Homo sapiens: one gene and its partners. The protein of the gene in region 1 purifies or fractionates together with the protein of each later gene. This does not show direct contact. Each region holds a gene or a part of one and is shown on either strand. Other genes may lie near its edges.

The links.
Region 2: the proteins of CCDC43 (region 1) and SCML1 purify together in Homo sapiens (affinity purification with mass spectrometry; 3 studies listed by BioGRID and IntAct, with this or other methods). This does not show direct contact.
Region 3: the proteins of CCDC43 (region 1) and GOPC purify together in Homo sapiens (affinity purification with mass spectrometry; 4 studies listed by BioGRID and IntAct, with this or other methods). This does not show direct contact.

What each region holds. Positions count from the first base shown.
Region 1 is NC_000017.11:44,675,268-44,683,207, forward strand, and holds the end of CCDC43 (coiled-coil domain-containing protein 43), read right to left. Parts: intron 6,872-7,940; coding exon 6,736-6,871; intron 5,377-6,735; coding exon 5,318-5,376; intron 3,783-5,317; exon of another isoform or gene 3,777-3,782; coding exon 3,589-3,776; 3' UTR 2,173-3,588; downstream 1-2,172.
Region 2 is NC_000023.11:17,731,015-17,743,304, reverse strand, and holds the start of SCML1 (sex comb on midleg-like protein 1), read right to left. Parts: upstream 5,813-12,290; 5' UTR 5,625-5,812; exon of another isoform or gene 1-5,624. Other genes in the region: actin remodeling regulator NHS, read right to left, coding at 10,841-11,447. UniProt on the Homo sapiens protein: Putative Polycomb group (PcG) protein. PcG proteins act by forming multiprotein complexes, which are required to maintain the transcriptionally repressive state of homeotic genes throughout development.
Region 3 is NC_000006.12:117,590,457-117,602,559, forward strand, and holds the start of GOPC (Golgi-associated PDZ and coiled-coil motif-containing protein), read right to left. Parts: upstream 12,056-12,103; 5' UTR 11,833-12,055; coding exon 11,548-11,832; intron 1-11,547.

The DNA of each region.
Region 1 (7,940 bases):
TTTAAAACTATTGAAAGCTTAACTTTTTCTGTTTCTCATCACTTAGTATCTTTGTATAGAACTTGAGTAATTTATTCGTTAATATGAAATGTTGGTATTATGTGACTCAGAAGATCTTGGGTTTTAACATTTCTAGCATGAGTTAAACTATAATGTACTGATGAAATTTAATTGAAATATCCTTGACTAGAAACACTGATGTTTTAAATGTTAGTGTTTTTCTTAGTTTTAGAAATTCTGGTATTAAAAAAAAAAAGAGTGTAATCATACCACATAAATTTTCTTTAGATGATGTGCAGAAGAAACTGATTGAGAATGCAAGAGTAACTGTAGGGAGAAACATTTTGATCACTGATATGCCTTAGAACTACCCAAATGAATTACATTGAGGGTAGTCAAATAAAATAGATCATCTCACCACAGTCACTGCATAGAAAGTGGTTAAGTTTAACATAAGACATGTTGGATGTTATAAAAACAAATACTGTACTGAATTTAGTCTCAGGAAAAAAATAAATTACTTTGTTGAAAACATTTGGTTTCATTTTTCTAAATTCATATGTTTCTAACCTTAAGAGTCACTCATATCAGAAAGTCAAATGAATTTCATTTAAGAACTTATACTAAGTTTTAGATTTCATTATTAACGCACAAGTAATAATGTTGGTTTATAAATCAATGCCATTCAGATATCCATGGATCTAACCAGATCTCCTTCAAAGATGAAATTTTTGCTCTATCTTTATGCTAATCCGTGTAAACCAGAATAAAAATTTTAGGGAAGCTTTTACATGATACTGGTCAGAAATGAAATACCAGTCCGTTAATAAGAACCAAACACTTAAAAAAATTCTTTGAAATATTGTTAATCATATCACCCAATAGATAATTTTTAAATTAGTCGGTTGTCCCTTTCAGTGGCATATCCTCTAACAGATGGTTCTTATGTACTTGTATTTCTGAATTACAACCTATAAAACATTGTACTTCTGAATTACAACCTATGAAAACATTATAAAACTTTTACAAAATTTGCAGTGAAACTGATAAAACTGATGCTCCCGCCATTTCTAATCTGAAAGAACTTGGTGTACTCATTCTTTTTAATGGAAAAAGCAAAATTACCTTGAGTTGTTATCAGTGTCCTTCTCACTTGAATAATCTGCTACTATAAAGTTTTAGAGGGTTGAGAATTTATGACTGAAATCCAAAATCTGGCCTAAAACTCAATCTTACCATAGAAGATATGGTTGTTTAAAATTTGCCCTTTGCAGCTGGGTGCCGGTGGATCACGCCTGTAATCCCAGCACTTTGGGAGGCTGAGGCGGGTGGATCACGAGGTCAGGAGATCGAGACCATCCTGGCTAACACGGTGAAACCCCATCTCTACTAAAAATACAAAAAATTAGCTGGGTGTGGTGGCACTCGCCTGTAGTCTCAGCTACTTGGGAGGGGGAGGCAGGAGAATCACTTGAACCCGCAAGGTGGAGGTTGCAGTGAGCCAACATGGCGCCACTGCACTCCAGCCTGGGTGACAGAGTGATCCGTTTCAAAAAACAAACAAAAAAAATATGCCCTTTGCAATACTGAACATTTTAGACGTAAAGGATTTATTAGCACCTGAGTCAAGTGGATAACTAAACTCAAAGCCTAATGAGCTGATCCTCTATTTTCTGTTTAAGCATTAGTTTGAGAGTATACTTAACTGTGACATACATAGCAGAGTCCCAGAAGAAAGAACTGACTACTAACAAATTGAAACAAGTACCCTTCAGGGGACCGTGGATATAACCTGACTCCTTCAGTGACAAAAATCAAGGTGAGAACAACCCAAAATCCCAAAATAAGGATTACTAAATTAAAATAGGCTCTATCATACCCTATCGCTACCACCACATAAAGGACTAAGACTGTAATAGTAAGGACCTCTAAGCCAATTTCCTGATGTTCCAAAAAACATGCTAATCTTTCTGATCTAATTCCTACTTCACAAAAAGGAAAATTGAGAAAGAGGATTTATGGATTCCAGGAAGAGCTTCCACTAGTGGAATATAAGTTATAGGGCTAATCAAAACAAAGCATAAAATAAAAATCAACACATTCCTAAGTAACTACTCACACATATTTCATTTCCATGGGTACGTAGAAGCAATCAAAATAAGTCAGAAGACAGCAATTTAAATAAGATTTATTTTTTTAAAGGTGGTTATTTTTATTTTTTGCAATGCCACAGTTATAGGAGTGTATGAAGAGGTAACATGTCTCCTTTTCCTTAACCATGTTTTTTTTTTTTTAACCTTCTGCACAAAGGTAAAAGTTTTTGTTAATCTCATAGTTAATGGTATAAAACAGAGATTGGCAAACCTTTCCTCCAACAGGCCAGGTAGTAAATATTTTAGATTTCACAGACCACATATTTTTTTCTTTTATAACTCTTTAAAAATGTAAAAATCATTTTTAGTTTGCACCATACAAAAACAGACTGGGCCAAATTCGGCCCGTGGGCAGTAGTTTGCCAACCCCTGGTATAAAATATCTACTTTGTCTTGTCAGAGAAATTGCTGTCCTTAGGCTTCTAGACAATCTGCTGCCTGAAGTCAAGTGGAGAAGGGCCTTATTTACAATTTAATGTGGTTTGTGACAGAAGTAGAAATGGAGAGCTTCTGCTCACTTTTGACTCTCCCAGTTTTTCCATTCACTCATTCATTCAATAAATTTGTTGAGCACCTACTATGTACACTCTTAAATATCTTGGTGTTAGCAGAAATTTCCAGTGTTTCTTCCTTAAAAGGGTGATTTCTCCAGTTTCTCCAAACCAGGAATTATTTCTTAATACTCATGTTTTATGGAAAAATCAGGATTAAAATCTCTACCAGCACACAAGAGGATACATGATTATACAAAATGAATCTAGCCAACAATGATATCCTTGCACCCAATAGTGACACAGCCTAGATGAGGAAAATATGTAACTATCTCTATTTTAAAAGATACCTCTTTTCCTCCCACAGGCTGAAACTTTCAAAAAAAAAAAAAAAATCAGATCTAGAACACCCCGCAAGTAATTTCTTCCCATTTTCCTAGTTTTGCTGCCATGTTAACATAAAATCTGGATCCAGGTAGGCCTCTTCATTAGCTTTCTATTTCAGCCATAAAACAATACTACACTTACAGCTGAATACTGACTCCAAAGCAATGTGCATGCCCACATTTTATCTCAGGGAGGGATTGATTATGTTTCTGCTCCTTCAGAATGAAAACTGTTAGCTTTCTGAATCCTATTTATCCAAGGTGAGGGAAGACTTTTTAAAGTGGCCAAAAGGAGCACAGGACTTGAGTATTAAAATATAAAGGTGGCCCCCATTCCAGATCTTTGGTACAGTCATCAACTATAATAATCTGATTGCCCACCCCACCAAAACAGCACATTTTGTAATTAGAAGTGATTTTGATTTTCCTTTTGACCATGTAAACAATAGGGGAAATGCCTTGGGAAACTACTTTGCAATGCACTCTCATTTCTCTTAAATACACAACCAGTTCTCCCTTTGATAAGTTCATGGGGGGAAAGAATAGAGTAGGCCAAGGTTATCGCTTTCGCTCCCCTCTCTGTGTCCTTTTTTTTTCCTTTTCCTTGCGCTCCTGCTTGGCTAGTTTGTCTCTCTCCCTCTGCAGCTTGTCCTGTTCCTTCTTCCTTTGGGATTCATCCCGAAGTGAGTCTCGCTCCAGTTTTCGGGCATTAAGGACATCTTCCACATTGGTGTTTCGGAACAGAACTACAGGTGAGTTAAGGGATTAGGGTACAGGTCACACAGATCACACCTACTGCTGCCTTTCCTCATTCTACTTATCCTCTCTCCACCTGCTGAGTCCTGAATCGTCTTTATCTATTCCTGGTTTTTTAAAAAAAACCCTTATGTTTATCCTTGGTCTAACAGAGAAATCCTAAAGCTATATTACAAAAGTTTTAAAATGTCCTTTGGAATAAAACTCTTATTCAGATTTACCTAAATCTGAATTTTAAAATATTTTACCAAAGAAACAAAAAAATAAGAAAACAAAATATTTCATCAAAATGAAATTTCATTCTAGAATAAGTACTTATATCATTCAATGGCAGAATATTAGAGAATCTAGGCTAGTTTTGGTGAACAGAGTAGTAATGTAACTGACTAAATGTTTATGTACTTGGCTCTGTTAAAATGCCTTAAAAGAGTTAAATAAGATGTTTAACCTTATTAAACTTTATCAATTTGCTTTTGTTCCTAGACTACTAAAGCTGAAGTGAAAACCACATTCTAATAACCATACACACTGAATCTATAAGAGATAGAAAATGAGTTTAGGCTGGGCGCAGTGGCTCATGCCTGTAATCCCAGCACTTGGGAGACTGAGGCAGGTAGATCATGAGGTCAGGAGATCGAGACCATCCTGGCTAACAGGTGAAACCCCGTCTCTACTAAAAATACAAAAAATTAGCCGGGCATGGTGGCACACACACCTGTAGTCCCAGCTACTCGGGAGGCTAAGGCAGGAGAATCACTTTAACCCAGGAGGCGGAGGCTGCAGTGAGCCGAGATCGCACCACTGCACTCCAGCCTGGGCAACAGAGCGAGACTCTGTCCCAAAAAAAAGAAAAAAAAAAGTGTTTGGTGTTTGTATTCTCTGACAAATTATAAGGTTTTTGAGGAAAAAGAGAAAATTTCAACATTATTTTATTATTTTTTGAGACACAGTCTCACTCTCATATCCCAGGCCAGAGTGCAGTGGCAAGATCTCGGCTCACTGCAGCCTTGACTTCCTGGGCTCAGGTGATTCTCCCACCTCAGCCTCCTGAGTATCTGGGACTATGACTATAGGCACATGCCACTACACCTGGCTAGTGTTTTGTATTTTTTTTAGTAGAGACAGGGTTTTGCCATGTTGCCCAGGCTGGTCTCAAACTCCTGGGCTCAAACGATCCACCTGTCTCGGCTTCCCAAAGTGCCAGGACTACAGGTGTAAGCCATCACGCCTGACCTCAATATTATTTTAATTTTCTCCCTAATGCTGGGCAACTCAGAGTATAGATTTTTATTTTTCCCTTAGAAATCCTTCCTCCAAACTAATCCCTTTACAGTACTTGTTAACTTGTTTTCTCTGGGGAAAGTTCTTGCTAAACTGACTATCTAGGGCTGTCCTAGGAATAGGGCTCCCAATGTTAGCATGACATGAGTTCCTGAAGGTAAAGGGGAGCCGCCAGCAATGACAGCAAAATAAAAACTGATCTCAAGAGGACTCTATGGAGAAACACATAGGGAGGGACCCAGAAGGATACGTTTGTCAGAACCAATGTTCATTGTGGTAGCACCTGAATCATCCTTCTCATCTGCTTCAGTAAGTGATGTTAAGGAAAGTCAGATGGAAAACAACATCCCAACCTAACATTAGAAAACATTCAATAGACTGGTAAGTAGGAAAAGCACACTGAATGGAGGGAGCACATTATCAGGGATATGGCGATAAACCCAGGAGATTCATCTTTGGAAACCTCAACTTAGGAAAGATTGATATATCTTCTATAAGATCCTTTTCTTGGAGGCTGAAAAGAAACTTAAGTTGGTCTGGGTGGATTGCCACATTACCTGGAAGCCAGATGACCTTTAAACAGTGGTTCTCAAAGTGTGGTTCACAAAACCCCCAGGAATATATTAGAAATACACATTCTTGGGACCTATGCCAAACCTACTAAATTGTGGGTGAAGCCCAGCAATCTGTGTTTTAACAAGTCCTCCAGGAGAACCACTGCTTTAAAAGTCCTTTTCTAGCCCAAGATGAGAAATTATGTCACCGGAACCATAGCTCTGCCAACCCTGGCAAGAAAACTCGTAAAAAAAAAATTAGAAGAGAGGCCAGGCGCGGTGGCTCACGCTTGTAATCCCAGCACTTTGGGAGGGTGAGGCAGGCAGATCATGAGGTCAGGAGATCGAGACCAGCCTGGCTAACATGGTGAAACACTGTCTCTACTAAAAATACGAAAAATTAGCTGGGCGTGGTGGCACGTGCCTATAGTCCCAGCTACTCGGGAGGCTGAGGCAGGAGAATGGCTTGAACCCGGGAGGCAGAGGTTGCAGTGAGCCGAGATTGTACCACTGCACTCCAGCCTAAGCGACGAAGCGAGACTCTGTCCAGAATTATTCTGGTATTGCTTTGGAGGTTCAGCCTTACTTTTAACTACCTGGTCACATAAGAAAGAAAAGATGCAAGCTGCTCTAAATTTAGAGAATCTTTCACCCAAAAATACCCAGGTTCTAGTCCTGGTTTTGCCACTAATCTTCTGAATGCCTCTGATCACCCATTCATCTGTTGGTGTCTCAGTTTCCTTATTGACTGGGAAAGAACATAAAGATGGATTATACTTTATACTACACTGTATAGAAAAGTATTATACAAATATAAAGAATTACAGCTATATTGTATTTTCTGAAAGCATAATATAAATGGACTATTAAGACATTATTTGTTTTACACCAAAGTTTTCAGGAATATAATGATTATGTGTTGAAAAATATAAGTCCAGTATCAACTAATCCAATATCACTCCGCATATCCACAAAGGGCCATAGATTACTGCCATTTTAGAGGGGAAAATTAAGCTATAGAGGGGGATTAGCAACTTGCCAAAGGTCACTGTAAACCCACAAATATGTCTGGCTTGAGCTTTAGGGAATGGTGCCGAGACTCCAGAAAGGATATTCCTCTTCATCTGTCACATCAGCATACTGGGCCAGGAGGGCAGCTTTTCTCTGCTTCTCCTCTTCTGACACCATCCTTGGCTTTACTACGATTTGTGCCTGCTTCTCAATTAGGGTGGCAATGGCCTGTACTTCATCTGGGAGGTGGTGGAAGGAAGAACAAGGTTGTATGAGAGAGAACAAGCTCACTGAACCACTAGTCCACATAGGCAGCACTTGTACTGAAGACATTGGCATCTGCTGCCTCCTTAGAGCCTGGCAGTTCAAAGGACATGGCTCGGGGGCCATTGAGAAAGGAAAGGAAAGGCCATGCAGGCCAAGCTTTGTATCCATCTTCAATCAGAGCAGCCCTGATTTTACTTGTTTTATATACTGAAGTTCTGCTGCCTTAAAAAAAAAAAAAAAAAAAAAAGGTTGAAAAGCACTGCATTAGAACCACAGAAAACTAAGCCTCTGAACACTCAACTTCCCCATGGCATCCCAAAAACCTAAGCAGGAATCTAAAATCAACTTAAGCTGGTCCTGTTTATGTTTCTGATTATGCCAGGTGGAATTCTTAGATTAAGAATATTTTGGCCGGGCGCGGTGGCTCACGCCTGTAATCCCAACACTTTGGGAGGCCAAGGCAGGTGGATCATGAGGTCAGGAGATCGAGACCATCCCGGCTAACACAGTGAAACCCCGTCTCTACTAAAAATACAAAAATTAGCCAGGCGTGGTGACGGGCGCCTGTAGTCCCAGCTACTCGGGAGGCTGAGGCAGGAGAATGGCGTGAACCCGGGGAGGCGGAGCTTGCAGTGAGCCGAGATCACGCCACTGCACTCCAGCCTGGGCGACAGAGCAAAACTCCGTCTCAAAAAAAAAAATATTTTGCCATGCTATAAAATAAAATCAACTAGTAAGTTCTCCAGTCTCAAGAAAAGGAAACAATGGTGTAAAATAGTAGTTCTCACACTTGGTTGCACATTAGAATCACCTACAGGAGCTTTTAAAAAATACAAATGCCTGGGCCCCAACCCAGGTACATTAAGTGATTCTAATATACAGCCAAAACTGAGAACCAACAGTGTACAGAGTTCAGAATCTTTCCAAATTTGGCTTTTATGATTTGAGTTTTCTGTACCTAATTTACCATCCTAGTGGTGGGTATATTCGCCCATTTCTCTTCCATTTTAAAGGGTAAAGTGTTTAGCTGAATAAAGCCAA
Region 2 (12,290 bases), on another chromosome or scaffold:
ATTCAGGTTTCATCTCTTTCCTGTTTCCCTTTCATTCTATAGTGGAGATACTAATGACCATGAACCCAAAAGACAGAAATCAAAAGGGATAAAGAAGATGGGAGAACTAACTCGAGTTAGATAAACGCAGACTAATGTTGCATAGAAGTATCAAGTTATAAAATACCTCTCTAATTGGGGCTGTAACTTCAATCAAATTTCACTTTTTAAACTATTTGAGTTTTCTGACCATAAAACTTATACAGGCTATCAGTAATTAAATTGTGGTATATTTATATAAAGGAACTTCGCAGCAATAAGAATAAACCAACTACTGCTGTATACAGCAAGGCCGAATCTCACAACCATAACCTTGGGTTTAAAAACAGCCAGAAACAAAAGAGTACAGTATATGACTCAATTGATATTAAACTCAAAAACAGGCAAAACTAACCTGTGGTGGAAAGAGTCTTTCCAAACCAGTACTTTTAGGTCTACTGTAGTTACTGTAACGACTTCTTAGTGTTCTATCTTGTAAATATGCCATGATTTATTAAACACAGCCCCCAATTCATAGATATTCAAGTTACTTCTAAAGTTTTGCTCTTATAAAGAACACTGCAGAACAGTCTTGCACCTGTGCAAGTAGTTCTATGGGATAAATTCCTAGAGGTAGAAACAATGGATAGGTCTCCACGTTTGAAAATTCTCCTCTACTTCTTCCCACTAAGGAGGGCTGTTGGGGTCAGCCAGATGTTCCAAAATAAACTAAGGTAGTATCCTGCTGGTCCTGCATGTAGTTTTAAAACCAGGACAGATAATACATAGTACCAAATAGCTTCTTGGCATCAGATGACTAAGTGACTTTTCTCTTTTGATCTACTGATGCAACATATTAATACATTTCTTAATGTTCTTGGGGTGAGGGGTCCAGCTGATTATAAACAACAACATTCAATTTGTTGGTGTTTTATTTAGAAATTGTTTGCATCTCTATTTCTAAGATCTTACATTGGTGAGATGGTATATTTCTCACAATTAATGAATCAGTGTTGTATTGCTACATTATTAACACTTGGTATCAAAATTGCTCTGCAAAATTAGCTGGGAAGCCTTTCATCTCTTTCTATACTCTAAAAAGTTTACATCGCACGACAATTTTTGTGCTCAAAGGGTTGAATTTATAAAAAAAACTCTCTGGGTCCAGTTTTTATAACATTTTCTAAGTTCCTCCATGGTTGATGATCTAGTCAAATTATCCTACTTTTTCTTGAGTTGTTTTGACAAATTATTTTTATCCAGAAGGATAATCATTTCATCATAATTACAGAATTTTTAGCAAAACCACAGTTTAAAATTATTATTTCTAATTTAATTTGTACTTTCTTTTGATTCTTTGATTAGGTATTCTATCTTGCTAAATTACTGACAACCCTGTGGGATAGGTTCTATTACTGTCCTCATTTTCCTTATGAGGAAACTGAAGCAAAGAACGTTTACTAGGGGTGTCCAAGGGAGGGAATATAGTCATGGGTTCTTAGTTTGTTTCTGGTTGGGCCAGGAAAGCCCCTTCCTCATCCCTCTTTTCCACTTATCCCTAGAGACAGAAACTAAAAAGCATAGCTTCAGGCTGCCGAAAGCCTAAAACAAAACAAAACAGAACAACAACAATGACGACAACAACAAAATAAGGCGGGTTGGACAAGCTTGATTTAAGTAATTTGCCCAGGTCCCATTGCTAGTAAATGGTGCAGTCTACCACCACACTCTATGCACTTTACTTCATTATTAAAATCACCTGGTATACCTTTGCTACCAATAACACAGTAAAATCCAAACTCCTACCATGGCCTGCAAGGTCCTTCCATAATCAGGACCCCGCCCACTGCGCAGAGGTCACTTCTTACCACTTGCCCCTTTACTCTAAGCCAGGGGTCCCCAACCCCTGGGCAACCGCCTGGTACTGGTCCTTGGCCTGTTAGGAGCACAGCAGGAGCTAGCAAGGATTATCGCCTGAGCTCCGCCTCCTGTCAGATGAGCTGCAGTATTAGATTCGCACAGGAGCACAAACCCTATTGTGAACTGCACATGCGAGGGATCTAGGTTGCACTCTCCTTATGAAACAGTTTCATTAGGAAACTATACCCCGCTAGCACTCCCCCGTCCCTGCATCTGTGGAAAAATTGTCTTCCACAAAACCAAAACCGGTTCCTGGTGCCAAAAAGACTGGGGACAGCAGTTCTAAGCCTAAAATATTTACTGTGTAGCCTGTTTCAGGCAAGTTTGCAGACAATGGTTACAAGCTCTTACATCCAGAGAACAGAGAACTCCCTATTTGGATTAATAACAATGTTGTCAAAATTTGGCTGTAGTTAGACACAGGAGCACTGTGCAGTGAGTCCACCACTGGACTCCCAACATGTTTACATCTCTGGTACATATACAAATCAACACCAATCTTTCACTCTTTGAGCTTCTCGCTCCTGTTATGCCCTCCGTCCATAATACCCTGTTGTGTCTCCGCCTAGGAGAATCTATTCAACTTCAAGGCTTACTTCAAGTTTCACCTCCAAAAAGCAAGGGCACCATGCCAATGATCATCCCATGTGGATGTGACACGGCTTTCCCTGAACTACAATAACACTCACACTTTAATACTTCTACGGCAACTGTCACACATATCTGGTTACATGAGAGGCAGCATCAAACAGCATTAAGACCTTAGGCTTGTGGTCAGAATACCTGGGTTTGGGTCCCACCTCCCCCACATACTAGCTGTGTAAGTAAGTTGAACAACTTACTTAAATCCTTTTTTTTTTTTGTCTGTAAAATGGGAATGATAATAGCACATACCTCACGGAATCGTGAGGATTAAATTAATACATGTCAAGTGCTTAGAGTAATGCATGGCAAAGATAGCAAGGGCTTTTGAGTATTGACCGCATCTATCCAACAGAACTATTTCTCAAGGAGCACATAGACAACAAGCCTGGGTCATAACGTCATTTTCATTCACATTGCACCTGAAGTGAGTTTTTATGTCTTTTAGGTACCAGGGTATGATGCAAGGAGCTGGGCTTTAGTTATAAACACTTGAATCCAAGTCCAAATTGCCAAATTTGCCGTTTCACTTTAGGCAAATATTTCACCTCTCTGTGCCTCAAATTTTCTAACCTGTAAAGTTGGAATAATATCTACTTCACAGGGCTATTTAGGCCAAAAATTACACAGTTAAACTCTCAGCATCATGCCTGGTTCATAGTAGACACACCATAAATTTTAATTCCTTTTCACTTCTTCCCATAAGGCAAACAATTACAGCTTTACAACATTGCCTTAGAGCCCAACCATGACTAGAATGTGCAAAATTAATTTCATTTTTAAATCTCAAATCCCACAAAATGAGTTTACTTAAAATGAAACTCATTTATATTTACCACAGAAATCTAAATTTCTTTTTTTTTTTTTTTTTTTTTTGAGACAGAGTCTTACTCTGTCACCCAGGCTGGAGTGCAGTGGCATGATCTCGGCTTACTGCAACCTCTGCCTCCCGGGTTAAAGCAATTCTCCTCCCTCAGCCTCCCGAGTAGTTAGCGTAACAGGCTTGCACCACCATGCCCAGTTAATTTTTGTACTTTTAGTAAAGACTGGGTTTCACCATGTTGGCCAGGCTGGTCCCGAACTTCTGACCTCAAGTGATCTGCCCACCTCGGCCTCCCAAAGTGCTGGGATTACAGGTGTGAGCCACCGCGCCTGGCCAATTCTTGATAACACCATAAATTTAAGTTCCTTTTCACTTTTTCCCACAAGATAAATTACAGCTTTACAACATTTTCTCAGAGCCCAACCATGACTAGATTCTACAAAATTAATTTCACTTTTAAACCTCAAATTCCACAAAAATGAGTTTAAAGGAAACTCATTTATATTTACCCCGGAAATCTAAACTCTTGATAATACCACACATTTTAGTTTCTTCTCACTTCTTCCCACAAGATAAATAATTTCAGCTTTACAACATTTTCTCAGAGCCCAACCATGACTACACTGTGCAAAATGAATTAATTTCACTTTTAAATCTCAAATCCCGTAAAAATGAGTTTACTTAAAATGAAACTCACTTGCATTTACCACAGAAATTTAAACTCTTAATTACACCATATACCTTAATTCCTTTTCACTTCTTTCCATAAGATAAATCACAACTTTACAACATTTTCTGAGCCCAACCATGACTAGATTGTGCGAAATTAATTAATTTCACTTTTAAATCTCAAATCCCATAAAAATGAGTTTACTTAAAATGAAACTCACTTGTATTTACCACAGAAATTTAAACTATTCATTACACCATACACTTTAGTTCCTTTTCACTTCGTCCCACAAGATTAATTACAGCTTTACAACATTTTCTCAGAGCCCAAGGCTAGATTGTGCAAAATTAATTAATTTCACTTTCAAATCTCAAATCTCGTAAAATGAGTTTACTTAAAATGAAACTCACTTATATTTACCACAGAAATCTAAACTCTTGATAACATAAGAACAAGAGGCCGTCTGATTTTCTAAAAGACTTTTTTTAGACATTAAAGACATTTTCAAAAGTCGTAAATATTCGCTCCGGAGGCGCAAGGCTTTCACCTGCCATTAATTCATCAGATAAGGCACAGCTCACAATGAGGCGCCACTCCCACCGGGACCACTTTGAGGAACACACAGCAAAACGCTCTGTTTGTTTTAAGAACAATCACTTTCTAAACCTTCCTGCGGGACTCTCAAAGGCAGCCCTTCCTTTGCCGCCAGAACCGCATCCCATCGCCCAGCACTTGCCGCAGGCCGGACAAGTGAGGCCCAAAAGGGCACCCAGCCCACGCCCCGCTTTAGAAAACACCGCGCGGCAAAGCTGCTTGGAAAATCGCTATCTTTTAGTCAACCTGAAGCCAGTTTGCCGCACTCGGGGAGAGCCGGGGAGAGGAGGGAGGGACGCGATCCGCCACCAACCAAATCAGGGCCTTTCCTGTTAACGACCACGCGGCAAGGGGGCCGGGCCCTCGCACGCCTCGACGGCCTCCCCCACTCCAAAGGGACTCCGATTTCGCAGGATCTCCCGCCTCCCGCCTCTGCTCCCAACACCCTACGTTTTTCTCTTCCTCCTCATTTACGTATTTACAATAAAACAGCGAAGCTGCACAGTCTGTCTCTAAATCAAACGCGGTTACCATCAAAGCCTCAGACTCTATGTCTCAACCGCAAAAGGTCTGACAGGAAATCAACTCGGGAGTTTGTCAATTCTTTAAACTCAAAGCTCTGTTAACGAAATCTGGATCCTTCCTCGCTCCCCACCTGCCTCCCCTGACAGGAGAATGACTGTAAAAGGATCCTGTCGTCCCCGAAAGTCAGCACCAAGCACTTCACAAATTGTCAAATCTCAAAAGCTTACACGCGCGGGCACTCCGGAAAGGCTGTGGGGACCACCCAAAGCACCCCCCTCCACACCGCGGCTGAAATTGGAGGCTGCGAAGTCAAGACTCGCTCTTCCCCGCAAAGCAAACCCTCTCTCCTCAGGAGAGCCCCGGCCCCTAAGCCAAATCGTGTATTCCCGTGACGGAAAGTTCAAGGTGAGGAAAAAGTACGACTGGACAGACCTATTTTAGTGACAGAGCCTGTCACGCCGGCCTCCGGAGGTCGCGGTAAAACTGCTCGCAGTAGTCCTGCCTCTCCGATGGGCGACAGCTGTGACCGTTAGGCCACTCGACGCTTCGGAAAGGTCCTGGCACCGGAAACCGGGCCTGGTCACGCGCACGCGAGACCAGTGATGCCCTGACCCCTGAGTGGATCAGAGAGCTCCCGCGACGCCGAATTCCCACACTCGCGGTTGGGGGGGGGGGGGGGGGGGGGGGGGGCGGGACTACCCGCTGACCAATCGGAGTCTGGCCACTGACAGGCGTCACCGTTGATCGGCCAATCCGCGGGTGCTCTCCCAGTCCTTGGGTGAGGGCGGGAATTTGCTAAGGAGATGGCTGTGGGGCGGGGCCGAGGGCGGGAATTTGCTGAGGAGATAGCTGTGGGGCGGGGCCGAGGGCGGGAATTTGCTGAGGAGATGGCTGTGGGGCGGGGCCTCTTACCTCAGGTTTTCCTTCGCAAGACCCGCAGGATTGAAAATGGACGTTAGGCCTTTCAGAGACTCGCGCGCTGAGTGGTTTCTGCGGCTGCGCAGGAGGCTGGCGCGCATGCGCAACCCTTCTAGTGGCGTTGTAGTTAGGGACGTGGTGTCCCCCCTTCGTTGTTGGGGTGTCCGAAGCTTTTTTTTTTTTTTAATGTGATCCCGCCCCTCCCCCGCGCTCTGTGACGCACCAGAGACGTCGTCGTAAACTGGGTTTCCTGGACGCACGCCAGTGATTGACTTGGAATGAGGAGAGGGGCGGGGCCTTAGCAGTTGCCCTGAGCCAGGTCTGGTAGGAAGGGCGAGGGGGGCCAGGGTGGGGGGCGGGCAAGATATTTCCAGTCTCCAGCACCCACAAGTTGGACTGGGGAACTAACGCAGACCTTGAAGGCAGATTTACTGGATTGGACCCCCAGCTCCAACACAGTCCTCCTATGGCCTTAGGCAAGCCAAGTAACCGCTTTGTGCTTCGGTTTCCCCATCTGTAAAATGGGTATAATATGGGGACTACATGAGTTAATGTATGCAAAGCACTTAGAACAGTACCTGGCATAGAATTTTGCTATTGTAATAAAGGCTATGTGACATCATCTAGTGGCATATAGTCTTACATACTTATATCGAGGCTGCTCATCTTGGGAAGGAGACACAGTCTGAGTAATTATCAGAAGCAAAGCAGGCAGATATTTCAAAGTAAAGCTATACATCTTTTCTTGGCCCAGAGAGGAGCTACAAAGAAAGTATACTGGACGTTGGAAATGTATCATTTTTCCTCTCAAATACGAAGCTAGATTAAAGCCCATTATAGATATAGTATATGTTTTTTTTTTGTTTTTGTTTTTGTTTGAGACGGAGTTTTGCTCTTGTTGCCCAGGCTGGAGTGTAGCGGTGTGATCTCGGCTCACTGCAACCTCTGCCTCCTGGGTTCAAGCGATTCTCCTGCCTCAGCCTCCAGAGTAGCTGGGATTACAGGCGTCTGCCACCATGCCCAGCTAATTTTTGTATTTTTAGTAGAGACGGGTTTCACCATGTTGGACAGGCTGGTCTATGTTCTTTTTGCTCCTACTTTTGCCATAACAGACCCTGCCCTTATGTCCTGTTGCCTGTAAAACACTGTTGCGAAGCCCCAAGAAATCAATTACGTAACAGTGAAGAGAGAAACCGGTTGTTTAATTGCAGTCACGTTTATTTGCAGTTTCTATACACACTTTCTAGGTAATCAAACTTTTCTGATACATTTTTTTTGAGAGGGGTTCACAATGAAACTGTCACCATTTTTACTAAAAATAAATACAAGACTTAAAGTGTTGCACAGCTCTAAAATATACAAAGGCTTGGATTGAATGTAAACGTTGAAAACATCTTACAAAAGAAACCATCTTTGCAGCAATTTAAAAAGTTCATATTTACAAATATTACAAAAATACAAAATGGATGCAAGTCCATAAACCATTGTCGTTTCGGCCAGCATGAACTGGTTCTAGTACCAAAATAGTTACACTGTAACCTTCTTCATAGTTTTAAATCTTTATTACCATCTAGTTCTCTACGTGCCACCACTGCAGCAAATGCACTCACTCACTGACCTTTGGCAAGAGCAAACAGCATGTTCTGTTTGCTACAACTAGTCCATGTCCTCTACTTAGCCAAAAACAAATCAAAACAACAACAAAACCAAAGTAGAATTTTTAAAAAATGAAAAAATTTCCCCTACACAACATAGATACGTTGTATAAACATAAAAGAACAAAAAATCGCATCAGTGCAAACAACAGAAGAAAAGTTCGGATTGATGTTCTTCACAATACCTAACGTGTGTACCCTGCTTCAAGACGGCAGTGATGTTAAAGACAGCCCTAAATCTTGGTCTTGTTTGCTATGTAATCAAGCCATGTAGAATATTCCAGATTATTAGGGAACTTCCTGCTTTTTCTTCTCAGTTTGTAACTCAATACTCTTTTCCACAGTGAATTTTAAATCCATCTTTATTTGGGTTTTTTAAATCTATGAAATATAAAATAGAGAAACTCTGCTATAGATTTTTAGAGTAAACAAAATAAGTAAAACTATATTATAAGGGTTAGTTCTGTGATCATTACATATAGAAGGTATCTTATTGCCTCACAATTCAAGTCAATATGTATTTTAAAAAATATATGGTACCATTACTTAATGTCAATAATAAAAAGGTGACATTTTTATTAAAGCCAATTCATGTGTTTTCTATTCAAGATTTAGAATCACTTTTAAAGCCCACATACCTTTCTTCACACTTAAAAAACCCCTAACTACACAAAAGCCATACTGCAAACGAACTGCTTTTATGAAATTACGAAAGATCGCCTACTGTGACTGGAAATGACGGTTTCTTATCGCATTTGCCTAAAAACTTTATTTTTAAAACTTTGCAAGGTGTACTTTTCAAATCATGAGACAGATTTATTCATGTTCCCATGTGGTGTCAAACCATGCTGGTTTTCTTAATTAATGGGTTCCAATGAGAAATGGTGGTCCATTTTATTCAAACCCCAAAATATTTTTCTTTTAAGAAAAAGTGTGACATTTTGTAAATGTTCAAACCCTTTACCAGGTAGCTTATCTATCCCCAGTGTGTGTGCGTACACACACACTCACACTCACACACACCCATACACACTCTCTCTGACTCTCCCTCCTCTTATACCCCTCCACCCCCAGCACCCATTTTACATACAAGGATGACAAGAAATTTAGTAACACAGTTTGGTAGTGAAAACAAATAGTAGAAGAAGCCAGACATTTTTTTTCTTTCCAAACAAACAAAACAACAGCAATCAGATTATCTATTCTTAATCTGTAGCAGTTTAGAAATCATTTCTATTGAAAGACAGTATCTTCTTAGACCAGGCTTCCTCCTTCATTTTGCATGAATTAATCCAAAATGCAAACCCTCTTCCACACCTCCTACTTTCCCAACTACCACTTGCATAAGCTTAAAGCCAGCAGCTTGTCAATTTCTTGGTAACATTGGTATGTTCTATCACTCTAATCACATTCTAGTCTTTTATAAGTCAGATCCCTTCTTAATTCTCTCTCTGTTCTACCTCTCCCATTCAAAACCTATTCTAAGTACATAGCTGCTTATATTTCTGACATAAGATTCCAAACATTAGTATAAGTTCATGTTAAAATCAGAGGTGTAAAAACCATTTGCAGATTTTAACGTGTAACTACATTTTTTTTTCAGTTTTAAGACAAGAAAATTCAAGTAATTTCAAGTAATTCAGCTTGTTTCCCTGCCTTTATTTTATCAGAGCACATGCCCTGACATTTCCTCTCCCACCCTCCACCCTCCCCTTTTGCCATCAAGCAGACACTATAGTAAAACCAGACAAAAACTCAGTTGTATGTAGTATTGTGAACCAGAGCTGTTCCCCATTCCCAGTTTAACAATGAGTATAAATAATGCATATACACATACCTATTTTCCAACTACATTGTTCACAGTGTCATTTCTGTTAATTTTTAGGTAGCATGAATCTCATCAGCACAGAGAGAAAGCTTCACTGAAAACTCATTACAGGTACTTACTGATTAATCAATAGCTCTGTGGCATGCTTAGGTTTTATTTTTGTTAGTTTAAGAACCTGGAGCTAATTTCTAAACTGTTTAAGGAGTTTAATGATTACAGTCATTAGTTATGACCGTTTATGTCCCCAGTAGCCTAATATAAAACATAACCTAAAATTAACTACTATTTTCCCTACTCATTCTCTTTAAAGCAATCCATTGAAAAAATTAAAATCTAAAGGACACTGTCAAATGCTGTTGTTCAGGGCTTTGTGTTGAGAATGATGACTTCTCTCACTGATTAAAAAAAAAATCAAAAGCATGCTTTTCATTCTGTCCAAATTACCACACAACAAATCACAGCCATGGGTTGCTATTAGTTTGTTTGGTGCTGCAATTTGTCATAAAAATGATTAGATCTGAATTCATTATTTTAATTTATTCATATTTCAGTATATGACCTCAAGATTTCCTTTAGTTCACCAGTTTAAAATTCATATTTGAGGTTTACCACTCAGAAATCATATTGGTGGACATTTAAATATGGCATTTGATATGAAAATGGTATTCACAGAATACAGTTATTACATTTTATTTTTGTGTATTCTATAAACAGTTGGTGTGCAGTAGATAATTGACCACATGTCCACTCATCATTGATAAATCTATTTACACATTTTTATCAAAAATATGGTATTTACATATGTGTAGTTCTTTCTTCTAAATTTTGCTTTAGTTTGTTTTAATGTAAAAAAATACCAAACATCCAGAGTAATTTCATCTTCTTAAAGAATAATGACAGTGAGGGCTTTAGTTTCTGAATAGGCAGCTCTGGGAAAACGTTTTCTAGGTGTCATGAAAATTAGACAATTTTGTATCCTCTATTTTCACAAGGAAGGAGATTGCGTAAATCAAACTATGCTAAAGAAAAACATGAAAGACTGCAGCTACTTAAAATATGGAAACTAATCAAGAATGTCTAAACCACTTTCTGTTTACCCAGCACATACTGTATTTAGAAATTCATTCATTGCTTAGCAGTGATGCTACCCCATCAAGTTGAGACTTTTCCCAAGTCCTCTGTTCTGTTCCTCCATCCTCATGTGAGTAAGGGTTTTGGCCTTTGCCAGGCAGCCTGGTACAGGCAGTCTATGTTGAACTCTGGGAGGAACGGTCGTCATGTGGGCTCCCGTCAGAATTTTCCGTCTCTCCCTCGGAGATTGCCTGCATGGGCGTATTGTACAGCCGGCAGCGGACACTGTAGCGGCTGCTGCTGGCTGCAGGAGGGGCCCGAGAACGTCCAACCCTTGCTGATGCTGAGGTGGCAAAGCTCTTCGAGGAAAAGCCTTCTGCATTAACTCGTGGGGAGCATGGAGAGAGTGGGGACAATGCCTCAGCCCCTTGTGACCCCTGATGGGCATCATCGGTGCTCTGAGGGGACTCTGCTGTGAGCTCCCCAGGAGGTTTGGGCAGTATGGGGCTCTTCAGGATCTCAGTGGCAGACATGCGGTAACTAGAATCTGAGCGACTGCCTTTCTTGAGCAGTAACAGCTTAAACTCTTCATTGGATGTGTTGGACTTTTTGGCATTTCGGTATATGAGACCAGGAGACCTCTGGCTGTTGGGGGTTGTCACATTACTGCTGGGTGAAGTGATGGAACTGGCGCTGCTGCTGCTACTGCTGAGGGGAGCTCTCGATTTGCTTCGAACAGACATGTCCCCGGAATCTTTTCTTCCAAGTACTTTCCTCTTGGATCTTTGAGAAAAGGAGAAAATGGGGCAAACATCTCACTCAGTTCACGTTTTTATGAAACTGAAGTATTCAGTCGCATTCACACATCTGTCTAAAGTGCATTTTGAGCCTGTCCTATATGATGGGATACTAAGCATTAGGGCTATAGAGATGAAAAGTAAGATATGTTCCTTGTCCTTGTAGCACCCACAGTCTGAGAGAAATTCTCTGATAACCAGGACACAAATTAGGTTCTAGAGATGATCATTTCAGATAATGGCTAATGTGGAGGCTAGAGGTTCTAGAGGATACTTTGTAAAAGTTTAAGAAACTATACTGCTAACAGCCAGGCGCAGTGGCTCACACCTGTAATCCCAGCACTTTGGTAGGCCGAGATAGGCAGATCACTTGAGGTCAGGAGTTCGAGACCATCCTGGCCAACATGGTGAAACCCCGTCTCTACTAAAAATACAAAAATTAGCCGGGCATGATGGAGCATGCCTGTAGTCCCAGCTACTCAGGAAGCTGAGGCAGGAGAATCACTTGAACCCGGGAGGCGGAGGTTGCAGTGAGCTGAGATCACGCCATTGCACTCCAGCAGCCTGGGCGACAGAGCAAGACTCTGCCTCAAAAAAAAAAAAAAAAAAAAAAAAAAAAGGAAGAAACTATACTGCTAACTAAACTATACTTCTGGTTCCAGGGGGTGAAAGACTATAACTTTTTCTTATTAACTCTGTCTCTGCAATACAGATGAAATGATCTGATGTCTGGGATTGGCTTCCAAATAATACCAGAGAAAGCAAGTGGATGGAGGTGTGGGTGGGACAGGATTGGCCCTAGTTTGACAGTTGATAATCCTGGATGATG
Region 3 (12,103 bases), on another chromosome or scaffold:
AGCTACTCAGGAGGCTGAGGTCAGAGGATCACTTGAGCCCGGGAGGTCGAGGCTGCAGTAAGCCATGATCGTGTCACTACACTCCAGCCTGGGCAACAGAGTGGGACCCTGTCTCAAAAAAAAAAAAAAAAAAAAAAGATAAAAAGATTACATTTCCAATTGTGATGCAACGTGTGGTAAGCACTATTTGAAAGACGTGTGATGTACCAATTCAAAAAGAGGTAAGGGGAGGTAGTCAGAAAGAAGTTCTCTGAGCTTTGAATGGAGATCTGCTAATACAGGGAGTGGAAAGGGAAAGGTGAGATATGAAAACACCTGACAGGTGAAACAGGGAATAACTAGATCAAAATGATTGGTATTTAACACATCAGTTCCAAATTTTGTTTTGTTTTGTTTTGTTTTGTTTTGTTTTTTGAGAAGGAGTCTCACGCCGTTGCCCAGGCTGGAGTGCAGTGGCATGATCCCAGCTCAATGCAACCTCCACCTCCCAGGTTCAAGCGATTCTCCTGCCTCAGCCTCCCGAGTAGCTGGGATTACAGGCATGCGCCACCACACCCAGCTAATTTTGTATATTTAGTAGAGATGGGGTTTCCCCATGTTAGCCAGGCTGATCTCAAACTCCTGACCTCAGGTGATCTGCCCACCTCAGTCTCCCAAAGTGCTGGGATTACAGGCGTGAACCACCACACCCGGCCCCAAATGTCCAATTTTAAAAAGGGGCCAAATACCAATTCTGTAATCCTTATATAAACCAATCTGATATCTATACCAAAGGAAGTACTCAGCAATGTGGTTTGGGAGCATGGAAGCAAAGAATACAAAAAACAAACAAAAAGCTCCTAGAAACCAAAATAAGTTCACAAAAAGATAATGCTGCCTTCTAAATCAGCTTCACAAAGCATTTGATGGTTCAAACTATTTCCCCTAAAACATGGTTCTGACCTTCAAACAGCTTACATTCTAGAGGTAGAAAGATGTGGTAAACGCTAATTATAGTACAATGTAACAAATCTAAAAGTACAAATAAGTTCAAGGGCTTAGGGCAGCCTCTGCCTATAAAGAGCAGAGAGGAGTGGAGTAAGGAAAGCCCTCTCTGAGACAATGACGTAAGTGGAGTCTTGAAAGATGAGTGTGTGTTTGATACTGTAGACAAAGGGTATAGAGAAGGCATTATACACCAAAGCCTATGTGAAAGTACAGGTGCCATAAAAGAGCAAGGCCTATTTACAGAACTGCAAATAGATCAGTTTTATTGAGGCAAAAGCAGCTAAGAAGGGGTGATAAGAGATAAGGAGAGACAGACAGGCACACTGATCACCGGGCCAAAGAATTTGAATTTTAGAGAGATACAGAAAGAAGAATGACAGAATTAGGTTTGTCTTTTTAAATACAAACCACTAGTATGAATCACTCTAGAATGATCAGGCAACCAAAGGATGGTTTGGAAGGAATAATGATTAGGAGACTATGTTAGGAACACCCGAGAAGAATAAGGACCTTAATTATGCAAAATATCCTAATCTTATCTCATTATCTTTCCCAGACCTGCTCCTCCTTTTCCTGTATTCCTTACTTCAGTAAATAGTAATGTATAAACTTCCTAGGGCTGTTACAAAAAATTAGCACAAGGCTGGGCACGGTGGCTCACGCCTGTAATCCCAGCACTTTGGGAGGCCAAGGCGGGAGGATCACTTGAAGTCAGGAGTTCGAGACGAACCTGGCCAACATGGTGAAACCTTGTCTCTACTAAAAATATAAAAATTAGCCGGGCATGGTGGCTGGCGCCTGCAATCCCAGCTGCTCAGGAGGCTGAGGCAGGAGAATTGCTTGAACCCAGGAGGCAGAGGTTGCAGTGAGCCGAGATTGTGCCACTGCACTCCAGCATGGGCAACAGAGTGAGACTCTGTCAAAAAAAAAAAATTACCACAAACGTGGTGGCTTAAAACAACAACATAAGTTTATTCTTTCACATTTCAGGATGCCCCAAGTTTGAAATAAGGTATGACAGGGCTGGCTCTTTCTGGAGATCCTGTGCCTCTCTCCCAGCTTTTGGTGCTGTTGGCAATCACTGGCATCCCTTGGCTTGTAGATACATCACTCCAATCTCTGCTTCTATCATCACATAGCCTTCTTCTCTGTGTCTGTGTGTGGCCTTTTCTGTCTCCTATCAGCACACTTTCATTGGATTTAGGGCCCCCTCTAATCCACTATAATCTTACCTCCATCTTTACATAATTACACCTGCAAAGACCCTCTTTCTAAATAAGGTCACATTCTGAGGTTTTGGGGGTGGATATGAATTTTGGAGGGATACGATTCAACCCACTACAGATACTGATCAATCATTTCCCAAACAGAAATGCAGTGTTATCCTTAACCCTTTCTCTTATCTCCTGCATCTACATAATTATCAAATCCTGTCAATTCTCCTTCCTTAGTCTTCAATTTATCTCCTTTTCATCAGCCCCATTACCACTTTCACTTCAATAACACACTTGTCTGTATAACAAACTCCTTTGCTATAACATTGAATAAACCTAGTTATTACTCTCATTACTGTGCCTGTACCTAAACAGATATGCATTGCTAGAGAAAATCACACAACAGTACAGACCGGTTGCACCATAATTTATGATAACTAACCCCAAGCCATTCCTCAACAATGCCTGGCAGTCCTGTTTCTCTGGCCAATTGGCTCTCCCACTCTTCCATTACTATCTCAAACCTCTTCTACTAGCCTCATGCTCTTACTCTCACCTACTTTTAGCAACTGACGTGGGCTCCTATTTTACAGAAAAAAAAAAGCCATCAGACAGAAACTTCCACAACCTCCTACTGTCTGCTCCCATTCTCTCCCTCTTCTAAGTAGCTGTTATTACAAAATCTTACTAATATTAACTACCCCACTCTTTTTCTATATTTGGCTTTTCTCTCAAGTAGATGCTTCTCACAGACTTATGTTTTATTTGTTTTTATTTAAAAACAAAATGAAAACAAAACCTCCCTTGTACCCTACAATCTCACTTCTTGCTATCTATTCAGCCACACTCACTCTTTCTGTCTGCTTCTCTCTCCACCTCCTCCATCCCCCATCAGACATAATGTGTTTGTGCAGAGACTGATTTCTCTAGCTCCGTAGCCTCAGGCCTCTTACTTAATCCCTGTAAAGTTGGAGTAACTATACTAATAAACCTGTTTCCAGGACTGTTGTGAGAATTGGATGAATCAGTCTATGTAAAAGACTCAGAAGAGAGGTTGGCCCATGGTAACTGATCAATAAAGTTGGCAATATTGTTATTGCTAATAATATAACACATTCATCTATCTATTCAGGCAACCAGCTGCACAAGATTGTCACTTGGATTTATCCTGAACTCCCTCATCCCTCTGTTCCAATCCATCTCTAGGTTTTTTTTATTTTTACCTCTCCAGTTTCTCTTGTTCTGAATACCTTCTCCTACCTCTATTATCTTACTCCACACTATCATAATCTCACATAAACAGAAACCTTCTAAACAATTTTCTGCATTCATTCATGTCATTCTCTGCAATTTTCTCCATACCATAGTCAGAGTGAACTATTCTAACTTCATATCTGAGGCTACGAACTGGTTTAAAAGACTTCCCACGATTATGATAAAGCCCCAAATATTTTTGCATGGCCATAAAGTCATGTAGAAATAGTCCCTCTCTGTCTGTTCAAACTTATCTTGTGCCTTGCTTCTTTTGCCCTCTTCTCTTGTTACACATACCAACTATCTCTCGAATCTTCAAATGCACTATGCGCTTGCCCACCACAGGTGCTTTTCACTTCCCATTCCCTCTACGGCAATGTTGAATGGCATTCCTATTTCTCTTAGCTTAATTCATTCCTATTTACACATAATTCCTTTATGTCTTAGCTCAATAACTTCCTCAGGGAAGCCTTCTCTGACATCCCAAAATAGGGTCTCATTTACTCTTATGTACCTTTCATAGTATTCATCAAAGTTGCAATTTCTCATTTACATGATTATTCTCCCAACAAATTCCTCCAATATAATCCAAACTCCATAAAAGCCATGACTACATCCCTTTTTTGCTCTCCATTGTATCCTAAGTGCCCAATACAGCATCTGGCACATAATTCGTGTTCATAAGTGCGTACTGGATCAATATTAAACTTAAGCTTCAATGTTGCAAAACAGCCTATTTAAAAACAGGACAGATTTAAAGCAGCAAAGGGACAAGCATATCACCAGTTCATTATCAATGTGGCTCTAGATCAAAGTTAAAAGTTTCTCTACTGTTGGCTATGAATAATAAATCACTTCAAAGAGATACTAACAGAGCAATTGCTGAGGGAAAGGAGGATGTGAAAGAAGGTGTATTGTTGTGCTGTTACTTTAAAAAAGGAGTAACAGGCAGAACACTCTTTCAAGGCAGAGGTGAATTTTTTAAAGTATTGGTTCACAATCTTTATTCTATTCCAACACACCTACTACTGCTAGTATTACTATTCCTACTGTAAACCTAAAAGGAAAAGGCTGAGGCACAAAATATACTTTAGTTTACCTGAGCCAAAATGAGGACAGCTACTCAACACATATTTCCCAGATGCCTGGGGAGTGCTCTGGCACCTGAGTTACAAGCAGATTTTAAAGGGAAAAAGGAACAAGGCAGATACAAAGTTGCTTGATAAGAATTCTCATTGGTTTACAATCACTGATTAGTGACTGGCTATTCATTGTTGCACTATAAGGTATGACTTATGGTGTCCAGCATATGGTATTTTATGGCTACTTGGCGTCAGTTAGTCTAAATCCTACATAGAAGGTGGCTTCCAGAGATAACTGCTTAGGTCAAAAGGGAGTGCCATAACTGCGGTTTCATTCCAATGCCTCTCTAGGCCTCACAATGGAAAGGAACTCAGTTGTGTTTTGTTTTGTTTGTTTGGGTTTTGTTTTGTTTTTTCAATAGGTTTCTGGGGAACAGGTGGGGTTTGGTTATGTGAATAAGTTATTTAGTGGTGATTTCTGAGATTCTGGTGCACCCATCACCTGAGCAGTGTACACTGTATCCAATGTGTCATCTTTTATCCCTCATCCCCTTCCCACCCTTTACTCCAGATCCCCAAAGTCCATTGTATCATTCATATGCCTTTGCATCCTCCTAGCTTAGCTCCCATGTATGAGTGAGAACATACATTTTGTTTTCCACTCCTGAGTTACTTCATTTAGATAATGGTCTCCAATCAATTCCACCCAGGTTGCTGCAAGTGCCACTATTTCATTCCTTTTTATGGCTGAGTAATATTCCAGGTGTCTGTATATATACACACCACATTTTTTTAATCCACTTATTGATTGATGGGTATTTGGGCTGGTTCCATATTTTTGCAATTATGAGTTGTGCTAGTATAAACATGTTTGCAAGTATCTTTTTCATATAATGACTTCTTTTCCTCTGGGTAAATACCCAGGAGTGGGGTTGCTGGATCAAATGGTAGATCTACTTTTAGTTCTTTGAGGAATCTCCACACTGTTTTTCATAGTGGTTGGTGGTTTACATTCCCACCAACAGTGTAAAAGTGTTCCCTTTTCACCACATCCGTGCCAACATCTATTTTTTTTTATTTTTTTGATTATAGCCATTCTTGCAGGAGTAAGGTAGTATTGCATTGTGGTTTTGATTTGCATTCCTCTGATCATTAGTGTTGTTGAGCATTTTTTCATGTTTGTTGGCCATTTGTGTATCTTCTTTAGAGAATTATCTATTCATGTCCCTAGCCCTCTTTTTGATGGGATTGTTTGTTTTTTTCTTGATTTGTTTTGAGTTCCTTGTAGAGTCTGGATATTAGTCCTTTGTCGGATGTACAGTTGTGAAGATTTTCTCCCACTCTGTGGGTTGTCTGTTTACTCTGATTATTTCTTTTGCTGTGCACAAAGTTTTTAGTTTAATTAAGTCCCATCTATTTATCTTTGTTTTTGTTGTGTTTGCTTTTGGGTTCTTAGTCATGAAGTCTTTGCCTAAGCCAATATCTAAAAGGGTTTTTCCAATGTTATCTTCTAGAATTTTTATGGTTTCAGGTCTTAGATTTAAGTCTTTGATCCATCTTGAGTTGATTTTTATATACGGTAAGAGAGGAGGATCCAGTTTCATTTTTCTACATGTGGCTTGCCAATTGTCCCAGCACCATTTGTTGAATAGGGTGTCCTTTCCTCACTTTATGTTTTTGTTTGCTTTGTCAAAGATCAGTTGACTGTAAGTATTTGGCTTTATTTCTGGGTTCTCTATTCTGTTGCATTTGTCTATATGTCTGTTTTTATACCAGTATCATGCTGTTTTGGTGACTTTGGCCTTATAGTATAAAGTCAGGTAACCTAATGCCTCCAGGTTTGTTCTTTTTGCTTAGTCTTGCTTTGGCTATGTGGGCTTTTTTTGGTTCCATATGAATTTTAGGATTGTTTTTTCTAGTTCTGTGAAGAATGATGGTGGTATTTTGATGGGAATTGCATTGCATTTGTAGATTGCTTTTGGTGGTATGGTCATTTTCACAATATTGATTCTACCCATTCATGAGCATGGGATGTGTTTCCATTTGTTTGTATCACCTATGATTTCTTTCAGCAGTGTTTTATAGTTTTCTTTGTATAGGTCTTTCATCTCCTTGGTTAAGTATATTCCAAAATATTTTAATTTTTTTGCAAGTCTTATAAAAGTGGCTGATTCTTGATTTGATTCTCAGTTTGGTCACTGTTGGTATATAGGAGGGCTACTCACTTGTGTACATTAATTTTGTATCCTGAAATTTTGCTGAATTCATTTACCAGTTCTAGGAGCTTTATGGATGAATCCTTAGGGCTTTGTAGGTATACTATCATGTCATCAGCAAACAGCAACAGTCTGACTTCCTCTTTAACCATTTGGATGTCCTTTATTTCTTTCTCTTGTCTGATTGCTCTGGCTAGGACTTCTAGTACTACATTGAATAGAAGTGGTGAAGGGGGGCACATTCTTCAGATAAAAAGTTTCTCTTTTTTCTTCCACAGTGCCACTACTATTCCAATCAATGCCTATGATTCTAGCATAGCCATGATCAAGTGGCTCATGACAGCAAAAACTCACAAGCATGTGGAAAGTGTGAGAGATGTGAGCAATTTGAAATGGCACCACCTCAAAATACACTGATATTCTCTGCTATTCCATTCTCCTCAGATATGACTCTTCCCAAATATTGCTATGGCAAAAAGCAGTCACATGGATATCATTTGTATTTAATTTTAAGATGTAATCTATGTTCTCAAAAAACTAAAAATAGAACATATACACTAGGGATATATGCCCCCTAAAAAGGAAATCAGTATCTTGAACAATATGTGCACTCCCATGTTTATTGCAACACTATTCACAATAGCCAAGATACGGAAGCAATCTATATTTCCACAACAGATGAAAAGATTAAAAAAAAAAAAGTGGTATATATACACAAAGGAATACTACTTAGCCATAAAAAAGAATGAAATCCTGCATTGAAGACCACATGGATGAGCTTGGAGGACATTAAGTAAAAATAAGCAAGGCACAGAAAGATACATAATGCATGTTCTCACTCAAATGTAGAAGCTAAAAAAATTGATTTACCAGGCATGGTGGCCCATACCTGTAATACCAGCATTTCGAGAGGTTGAGGCAGGAGGATCTCTTGAGCCCATGAGTTCAAGACCAGCCTAAGCAACATAGTAAAACCCCATCTCTACTAAAAAAAAAAAAAAATAAAATAGAAAAATTAGCTGAGTATAGTAGCTCATGCCTGTAGTCCAAGCTACTTGGGAGGCTGAAGCAGAGGGATCAACTGAGCTGGGAGTTGGAGGCCACAGTGAGCTATGATTGCACCACTGCACTCCAGCCTGGGTAACAGAGTGAGGCCCTGTCTCAAAAAAAGAAAAAAAAAAGTTGACCTCATAGAAGTAGAGAATACAACAGTGGTTACTGTTAAGTTGGGAAGGGTGAGGCGGGTAGGAAGATGTTGGTTAACACAGCGGTCACCAATGTTTTTGGCATCAGGGACTGGTTTTGTGGAAGACAATTTTTCCACAGGACAGCGTGGGGATGGTTTCAACAAAAGACATTAGACTCTCACAAGAAGCTGGCAACCCAGATACCTCGCATGTGCAGTTCACAACAGGAACAGGATTTGTGCTACTATGAGAATCTATATGAGAATCTAGTGCCACCACTGATTTGACAGGAGCCAGAGGTCAGGCTGTAATGCTCTCTTGCCCACTGCTCACCTCCTGCTGTTCAGCCAGTTCCTAAGAAGCCACGGACCAGTACTGGTCCACAGCCCGGGGTAACAAAATTATGGCTAAATAAGAGGAAAAAGTTCTAGTATTCTATAGCACCATAAGATGATTACAGTTAATAGTAGCTTAATGTATATTTTCAAACAGCTAGAAGAGCAGGTTTTGAATTGTTTCTAACATGAATAATGTTTGAGGTGACAGATATGCTAATTACCCTAATTTCATCATTATTATGTGTATCCAAATACCACACTGTGCCCCCTAAAAAGATGCGACTATTATGTCAATTAAAAATAAAAAAGAATAGCCCTAATAGCCTATTCAAGTAAAAAAGTAACCTATGATTTTTTTGCAGCAAAATTTAATATTTTAATAATAAATATAGTGTTTAATGTTAACTACATTATAAATTACCCAAATTGGAGGTATCTGTTTCTTCATTATATAAAAATATTTTATTACAGTAATATGATTAAAGGTATTAACCTCTGAAACCACTGAATGTCACGTTTGTCATATTAAACCATAAGTGGTTTCAAATATGTCTTAATGTCCATATAATTAAAACAATAGAACAAATTCAATCCTTTTCCTAAAAAGTAAAAAAGGGCAAGAAAATATGGAAATTGTTTCAAGCTTTCAAACAATATATGGAGCAACCACTGAAATTCTGTAGATGGAACAGCAGCAAGTCTACTTTGAAAGGCACTGCTGACAATGAACTTCTTTCCACAGCAATACACAATTGATTCCATAAAAACGGCAGAAGCTGCTAAACGTGTACAGATTAACATCAAAGACAAACAAGTTGACTGTAACTGAAAAAACACAAACAAATGAACAAACAAACCAAAATCATTAGGATTTTTCCCCTCCCCATTTTCCTATGATCTTTAAATCAACAGTTTCAAGCATAAAAAATATGCTCACATTGTGATATGCTAGCATTTCCTATTTTGAGAAACAATGCAACCTCCTAAACCAGGACATAAAGTCAGAATGTGTGATTTTAATTTCTGAAAAAAGAACATGCATAATTTATTACAATTCTGAATACTCATCTAAAATATTTAAAGACAAAAAAAATGGAGCACAGCCTCCTACTGAGAAAATTATCCTTCCTCCCAATTTCAATTTTTATATCTGACATCAAATCCCTGTTTAAAGTTTCCTTAGGTCATTTTAAAAATAAATAAAATATTGTTTCATTTTTAAAAAGTTGTTAATGCCCAGTTGATACTGCAGTTGTAAATGATATGAAATTTCTCGTGTGATGTTTTAGTCCACTTTCTGTTTCTTATAACAGAATACCAGAAACTAGGTAATTTATAAAGAAAAGGAATGTATTTCTTACAGTTATGGAGACAGAGAAGTCCAAGGTCGAGGGGCCAGATCTCGAGAAGTCGAGAGCCTTCTTGCTGGCAGGGGATCTGTGCAGAGTATGGAGGCAGCATAGGGTGTCACATGGCAAGGAGGCTGAGCATGCTAACATGCTTACTCAGGTCTTTCTTCCTCTTCTTATAAACCACCAGTTCTACACTCCTATGATAACTCATTCATCCATTTATCCAATAACAAATCAATCTATAAGTGGATTAATCCATTCATAAGAACAGAGTACTCATGATCCAGTCTCCTCTTAAAGGCCCCACATTGGAGATTCAATACTGTCACATTGAGGATTAAGTTTCCCATACACGAAATTTGGGGGACACATTCGAATTATACCATGTGGTAAAGGCTACTCTTGATCTTTGTTGTTTAAAGCTAGAGAACTAATGGCCAGGCACAGTAGCTCATGTCTGTAATCAAAGCACTTTGGGAGGCCAAGGCAGGAGGATCACCTGAGGCCAGGAATTCAAGACCAAACTGGGCAACAAAGCACTCCATCTCTTTTTTGAAAAAAATATAATAAGATAAAATAAGATGAAATAAAGTTAAAGTACTATTTCTAGAAAACATTAAATGCAATTTCACTATCTGAGAAAAATAGCTTTCTTGTGGAAATTACTACCAATAAAGAAATCAAGAGATGTTTTCATTTACCTACAGTAAGAAGTGATTACCTTCATATTAGCACTTTCTAATCTTTTCAAAAAGGATAGAAGAAATTAACAGTTCTCGCAGTGGAGAAGAGCCACAATTCTTGGATATGTAAATCTATGTTAATCAAAGATTAATTATGCCACATATTTCATGGCTAATAGGAGAGAAAGAATGCTGACCACTAGGCAAGGAGAGGATGTTTAACTGACATTCATATTGATATAGATATAATGGGCACTGTCAATGACAACGAGTAATGATGATTTCTTAGGAAAGCATGTTCAGAGTTTTGCACATCACTGATTATCCCATTTTTATCTATTACACTTTTTGAAAAGAAAGACCCATTCTCTTAAATTGCCTAGTTAGAAAGTACTCTTTATGCAATAATGTTAATCTATCTTGATTTCTAAATATTTTAATAATGTCCTTTTTAAATTTTCTGCACAATATGATATTTTTGTTTTTTTGAACCACAGCCACTCCACCCTCACCCACACCCAGGATCAGAGATTAAAGCAAATGATTCTTTACACTCTCTCAAAAATAAATCCAGACTTTGGAAAATTACACAGTAATGTACAAGCATATAAAAACTCAAGGTCAGAAGTAATTTCAATAATTGCAGGGAGCTCTCTGGAGGTATCTGCCTGTAATTTAACAACCAACTATGGATGTAAACCGAGACAGTGATACTATCGTTATGCACCACGAAATTTTCCTAAGAGCTTTGATCAGATTCCCCTAAATAGTTTATGCATGTCTCTGTATGCAATCATAGGCGCTGACCTGGAATAATTAAAATGAAAATAATCAGTGCTGTATCTGTCTTAACATATACAAATTCGGTTTATCAATGTGAAAGCAGATCTGCAAAACTCAGTTGTCAAAAGGTGGCCTACGGTATTTTCATGACAGAGAATCTTTGTTAGGTTTGTTAATGTAACATGTGCAATGGAGGCTGGTGTATGTAATTAGTTTCCTCCTCAGAGAGATACTAGGAAGGTGGACGACAGTACCCCGGGAACTCACACGTCGGTCTAGGGCCCTTTTTGTCCCCCACCCTCACCTCACTCCTCAGACATGCACTCTCCCATCACATTTGAAGCCCCGGTGGGCAGTTTTCTAGGGTCGTTTCACTGGAGCGTTAAATGGCATCTGACGCCACCGGGCAGCCTGGGGTTGGATGCCATAGCCGCCAGCACCCACGGCTCACCTCCAGCTTGTGGTTGATTTGAGACACAGACTGGGCTTTGTGGCAAAGCTGTGCAAAGCAGGAGCTCAGGCTGGTCATCTTCTGTCGCCCCTCATAAGTGATGTCCGCTTGGTCTGGATCGATCTCTCCCAGGAGCAGATCCACATCCACAAAAGCTTTGTCGAACTCCTTCTCCAGCACCTCCAGCCACCGGAACATGGATACCCCGCCAGGGGCCCCCACGGAGCAGGAGGCGCCCCCTGGGCCCCCTCCGGCTGCTGCTGGGCATGGACCGCCCGCCGACATGGCGCCGTCAAGGGCCTCTCCCGACTGCTGAAGACCCTCGCCGCCCCCCGCGCACGAAGGGAACTGCTGGGACTGAGGGGACCCCCGCGCGCGCGGGCACACTCCGTCACCTCCCTTCACCTCGCGCCGTTAACGCCAGCAGCACAGTCACAGAACCGCAGGAGTAACGAGGCTGAAGCTGAGGCGGCAACGGCGGCGACACACGGAAGACTCAGTCAGTCCCACCTCCCAGCCTGCCCCCGCTGCGCATGCGTAGCGAAGAGCTGGGCGG